Regions from separate parts of the Homo sapiens genome. Here region 2 is linked to region 1. Evidence: fine-mapped QTL for protein levels in blood plasma. Region 1 holds a variant in brackets. A gene starts in the other region. All regions are shown on their forward strands.

Region 1 (2,500 bases):
CTGTTTAATTATTTGAATTCTTTGGGTTAGGCAGACATAACCTAAAGAAGCGTTGGAATTTTCTTTCTCAGTATTTCGGAGACTACGGTGGACTAATCTCTTTTTCCAGATTCTGAAATATTTTAATATCAGAAAAAGTGATTTTAGGTCAGATGTGGTGGCTCATGCCTGTAATCCCAGCACTTTGGGAGGCCGAGGCAGGTGGATCACCTGAGGTCAGGAGTTCCAGACCAGCCTGACCAACATGGAGAAACCCCATCTCTACTAAAAATAAAAAATAGCCAGGCATGCTGGTGCATGCCTGTAATCCCAGCTACTCAGGGGGCTGAGGCAGGAGAATTGCCTGAACCCAGGAGGTGGGGGTTGCAATGAGCCAAGATCACGCCATTGCACTCCAGCCTGGGCAACAAGAGCGAAACTCTATCTCAAAAAAAAAAAAAAAATAGCAAAAGCTATTGTATGCCTGATGTGGTGGCTCACACCTGTAATCCCAGCACTTTGGGAGGCTGAGGCAGGCAGATCACTTGACATCAGGAGTTCAAGACCAGCCTGGCCAACATGGCGAAACCCCGTCTCTACTAAAAATACAAAAAATTAGCCAGTCATGGTGGCACGCACCTGTAGTCCCAGCTACTCGGGTGGCTGAGGCATGAGAATTGCTTGAACCTGGGAGACAGAGGTTGCAGTGAGTCAAGACCATGCCACTGCACTCCAGTGTGGACGACAGAGTGAGACTCTGTCTGTAAAAAAAAAAAATAATAATAATAGAATAAGTGATTTTATTGTCTGTTGGGATTTTATTGTCCGTTAGGTCAGTGGATATGTGTGTATGTGTTTTTCTTTTTCTTTGAACTCACAGTAACCAAAATATCCACTGAGGATGATGGATTGGTGCGGAACATTGATGGAATAGGTGATCAGGAAGTTATCAAACCTGAAAATGGAGAGCATCAAGATAGTACCCTCAAAGAGGATGTTCCAGAACAGGGAAAGGATGATGTCCGGGAGGTTAAAGTAGAGCAGAACAGTGAACCATGTGCCGGCTCTAGTTCTGAATCTGATCTCCAGGTAATGTGTGAAGTACGAGCCATCAAGAAATAAGACTGGGCCAGGCGCGGTGGCTCATGCCCATAATCCCAGCACTTTGGGAGGCTGAGGTGGCGGATCACCTGAGGTCACGGGTTTGAGACCAGCCTTGGCAACATGGGTAAACCTCATCTCTACTAAAATTACAAAAACTAGCCAGGCATGGTGGCACATGCCTGTAATCCCAGCTACTCAGGAGGCTGAGGCAGGAGAATTGCTTGAACCCAGGAGGCGGAGGTTACAGTGATCCGAGATCATGCCACTGCACTCTAGCCTGGGCAACAGAATGAGATTCCGTCTCAAAAAAAAAAAAGAAAACTGAAGTGGAATTAATTCTGTAAACTTATGGCTTTGGATTTCAATTTTATCCTTTGCCTAAAGAAATCTC[T/G]TTACAAAATCTAAACTATGAAAACTATGGTAGTTTAAAAAACATGCTTCAAAACTTAATTTTATTTCAGACAGTGTTTAAGAATGAAAGCCTCAACGCAGAATCAAAATCTGGCTGCAAACTTCAGGAGCTTAAAGCTAAGCAGCTTATAAAGAAAGACACTGCCACCTATTGGCCCCTGAACTGGCGTAGCAAGTTGTGTACCTGCCAAGACTGTATGGTAAAGTATCTGATTGTGCTCAGTGTTAGCATGTTTTGTGTACTGGTGCCCCAAAATAAGAACACCTGGGGAAAACATTCAATTTTTGTACCAGAGGAAGAAAGGAAAATAAAAAGAACACCTGAACAATATATTTATGAAATTAATGTTTAGGAGACCCTCCAAATTTTTACATTAAGCAAATTTATGACATAGTACTTACAGTTGGAATGTTTGTGGAAGAAATGGATAATTATGCAGTATTTTAAATTTACTTATTTTAATTTTAGTTTACTTATCTTTGTTATATCAAAGTTGCTTGGAAACACTGGTTGAAAGTTATAGTAAATTGGCCAGGTGCTTTGGCTCACGCCTGTAATCCCAGCACTCTGGGAGGCCAAGTTAGGTCTCGATCACCTGAGGTCAGGAGTTCGAGACCAGCCTGACCAACATGGTGAAATCCTGTCTGTACTAAAAATACAAAATTAGCTGGGTGTGGTGGCACATGCCTGTAATCCCAGCTCCTTGGGAGGCCAAGGCAGGAGAATCGCTTGAACCCAGAAGGCGGAGGTTGCAATGAGTCGAGATCATGCCATTGCACTCCAGCCTGGGCAACGAGTGAAACTCCATCTCAAAAAAAAAAAAAGTTAACAGTAAATCAATGGTTTTTAAATAAAGATCTCATAGACCATATGACATCTGGGAAATTGGGAGATTTCTGAAAGAAATTTAGGCAAAAAGAATAAATCCTTCTAGCAATTCTGTGTTAAAGACGCTCCAGTTTTTCTAGGTCTTAATATAAAAAAATTACATTTTTAGTGATTCTC
Region 2 (3,016 bases), not on the chromosome of region 1:
CAGCTCCACTCACCAGGTATCCTGGCCGCATTGAGGATGGCTGAGGGCAAGAGAAGGAAACGGTTAGGCCGGTGAGGGGCCCCAGGACACAGTGGTGAGGGGCCCTCAACGCCCAGTGAGGAAGGCCCCCAACACCCAGTAAGAAGGGATCCCAGTGCCCAGTGAGGTGGAGGTCCCAGCACCCAGTGAGGAGGGTCCCTCAGCGCCCAGTGAGGAGGGGTCCCAGCACCCCCTGAGGAGGGTCCCTCAGCGCCCAGTGAGGAGGGGTCCCAGTACCCAGTGAGGAGGGTCCCTCAGCGCCCAGCGAGAAGCCCCCAGCACCCAGTGAGAAGGGGTCCAGTGCCCAGTGGGAAGGGGTCCCAGCACCCAGTGAGGAGGGGTCCCCAGCGCCCAGTGAGGAGGGCTCCCCAGCGCCTAGTGAGGAGGGTTCCCCAGCGCCCAGTGAGGAGGGGTCCCCAGCGCCCAGTGAGGAGGGCTCCCCAGCGCCCAGTGAGGAGGGGTCCCCAGCGCCCAGTGACGAGGGGGTCCCAGCGCTCAGTGAGGAGGGGGTCCCAGCGCCCAGTGAGGAGGGGTCCCAGCGCCCAGTGAGCAGGCGTCCCAGCGCCCAGTGAGGAGGGGGTCCCCTTGAGTACCTGGTGGTGAGGAACCTCTAGCCCTCCAGTGCCCAGGGAGACTCTCAAGTCTCTCAACCCCAGGGCCCCTACCGGCGGGGCATTTCCTGGGGCCTGGCCAGGCCCTGGCTGCACAGCTGTGACCCTGCCCTCCCGCAGCTTCCCGTCCAGCCTGCCTTCCGGGGACCAGGACCGGCTCCTCGAGGGAGGCACAGACCTGAGCCCCTCGGCTCTGGACGCTGCTGCCGCTGGTGTGCCCTCCCCTGACCTCCTGCGGCAGGAACAACACAAAACGGTGCTTCCCCAGAGGCAAGCAGCGGAGGACGAGGAGATGGGAGAACACGGAGGCGAGAGGGAGCAGGCGATGGCGACGCCGACGGTAACTGGAGACCGAGGCGCGCTGCGTACTTGCTGCGTTTTCTGTTTCATCCTCACAGCCGTAGAAGAAACCGAGGCACAGAGCAGTTAAGGAGCAAGAGATAAACAGAGCAGAAGCGGAAAGGAGATGAGAGAGGCAAGGCCAGGAGGGAGAGAGGGAGGGAGGGAAGGAGGGAAGGAGGGTGGAGGTGAGAGGGAGGAGGGAGGAGCAGCCTCCGGACGTACCTGTCGACGCCAGCAGCAGCAGGGAGGTGAAGGTGCCGAGACAGCCCCCACCCAGGGCTGGGGGCGCTCCAGAAACCACCATGGCTGGTGGGGCGGGGGAGCAGGCAGCAGGCTCGAGAGACCCAGGGCGATGCGGGTCAGGGTGTGTAGGTTCCCTGCAGGTCGCCCCAGGTTTTATCCTGGGAGGCGGAATGCCGTCAGACCAGTCCCCAGGTGGCTCCCGCGGCCACCCCGGCTGTGGGTCCTGGGCAGAGGGCGGGGCTGCGGGGAGGAAGCCAGCCGCTACAGGGCTCTGGGGGGGCTCTAGCTGAGACCCCAGGATGTGGCCTCTGGAAGGGCAGGGGAGGGGGCTTGGGCCCAGAGGTCCCTGACATTAATTGTCCAGGGGCAGAGAAAGGTGCCAGGGCACTGAAAGGAAGGGGTTCCGGGCTGGGGAGGGCCTGGGTTTGGAGAGGCTGAAGTCTGGGGTACTGGGTGTTGGGGGTGGTCCTAGGGCCTTAGGGATCAAGGGGGTGCCCAAAGCTCAGTAACGGCTCCCACCTGCAGGGCCCCAGGCCCCTGTGACTCAGCCCAGAGACCTGGCGCAACCCGGGCTTGGGAATCCCGTTAACCCACTTCCCGAAAGCTGTGAATCAGGTGAGTGGCGACCTTGGTGGCCTCCTGGTGGCCGCCCTCCTGTCGTTCCTGGAGGCGGGGCTCTGCCCTGCGGTTCAGACACCTGACAACTCACCTCACCTGGACTCCTGGGAAGGGGAGGAGCCCATGGGCACCAGGGCTCGGCCAAGCAGGGGGGTTGAGAGAAGAGGGGCCCCGGGAAGGGCTGGGACTCCCAGGATTCAAAGAGCTGCTGGGCTGGGCTGTGGGGGGCCGGGTCCTGGGCTGGGAGTGGATTCTCGGTGCTTCCCCCCAGCGGCTGCCACAGTGGCAACCCGGGGCTGAATCCTGTGAGACCTTCCCTGACTCAGTGCCCTGCAGCGCCCCACACTTGGGACACTCCCACCCAAGCAGGGCAGGCTTCCTCCTCTACAAAGAGGCAGGAGCCTGCGCCCCTTCACTCATTCGATCAACAAGCCTCCAGCAGGGCCCTTGCTACCGCCGGGGGTGAATTAAAAACAACCATAGTGTCTGGGTGGGGTGGCTTATTCCTGTAATCCCAGCACTTTGGGAGGCCAAGACGGACAGATCATGAGGTCAGGAGTTCAATACCAGTCTGGCCAACATAGTAAAACCCCGTCTCTACTAAAAATACAAAAAAAAAAAAATTAGCCAGGCATGGTGGCAGGCGCCCTTAGTCCCATCTACTTGGGAGGCTGAGGCAGGAGAATCGCTTGAACCTGGGAGGCGGAGGTTGCAGTGAGCTGAGATCACGCCACTGCACTCCAGCCTGGGCGACAGAGCGAGACTCTGTTTCAAAAAAAAAAAAAAAAAACCATAGTAGTGAATATGTATGTAATAAATATATTTATACAAATATAAATATAGTATTTATATAATAGAGCAAACATTTAGGAGTGCCATGCATTGCCTCCTAATCCTCAAATGTCTTTATTATTCCCACTCTGCAGATAAGGAAACTGAGGCAGCTTAGGGCGGTTAAGTGACTTGCCCGAGATTGCTGGGTGAGTGGTGGAGCCGGACCTGCACCCCAACACTGGGGGTGGCTGCTGGGACTGCCCTCATGGAGGCTTCGGGAGCCTGGAGGAGGTGCCTCACCCTGCCTGGGGTGAGCCCTAACTTGCTCCCTGCAGAGTCAGGGTGGCGTGGGTCAGGGGCTTAGCAGACCACCATGGCTGCTTCAGGGA

Which allele goes with the higher level. Positions count from the first base shown, and alleles are read on the strand shown. Strength reflects both the effect of a copy and how common the allele is.
In carriers of allele T in region 1, the plasma level of the protein whose gene starts at base 1,362 in region 2 tends to be lower than with G alone (weak association).

The links. A credible set is the group of variants that fine-mapping cannot tell apart. PIP is the chance, under the fine-mapping model, that this variant and not a neighbour inherited with it causes the effect. The UK Biobank Pharma Proteomics Project read protein levels with antibody pairs (Olink). The fine-mapping took linkage between variants from a reference panel, not from the people measured, so its PIPs are less certain.
Region 2: PRSS22 starts here. The variant in region 1 is the best candidate, but not a certain one, in a credible set for the plasma level of the PRSS22 protein (UK Biobank, PIP 0.85).

The regions. Positions count from the first base shown.
Region 1 is chr14:93,217,668-93,220,167 of GRCh38, forward strand. UBR7 (ubiquitin protein ligase E3 component n-recognin 7) reads left to right here. Exons shown (of 11, transcript NM_175748.4): 7 at 860-1,068; 8 at 1,545-1,694. Among named protein-coding and RNA genes, the nearest start is that of UBR7, 12 kb to the left of the region's middle. The variant T/G (reference allele first, on the strand shown) is at 1,475.
Region 2 is chr16:2,856,809-2,859,824 of GRCh38, forward strand. It overlaps PRSS22 (serine protease 22), which reads right to left and starts at 1,362. Exons shown (of 6, transcript NM_022119.4): 1 at 1,215-1,362; 2 at 14-40. The coding sequence starts at 1,296. RefSeq lists enhancers at 747-1,347, 1,348-1,948, 1,949-2,548.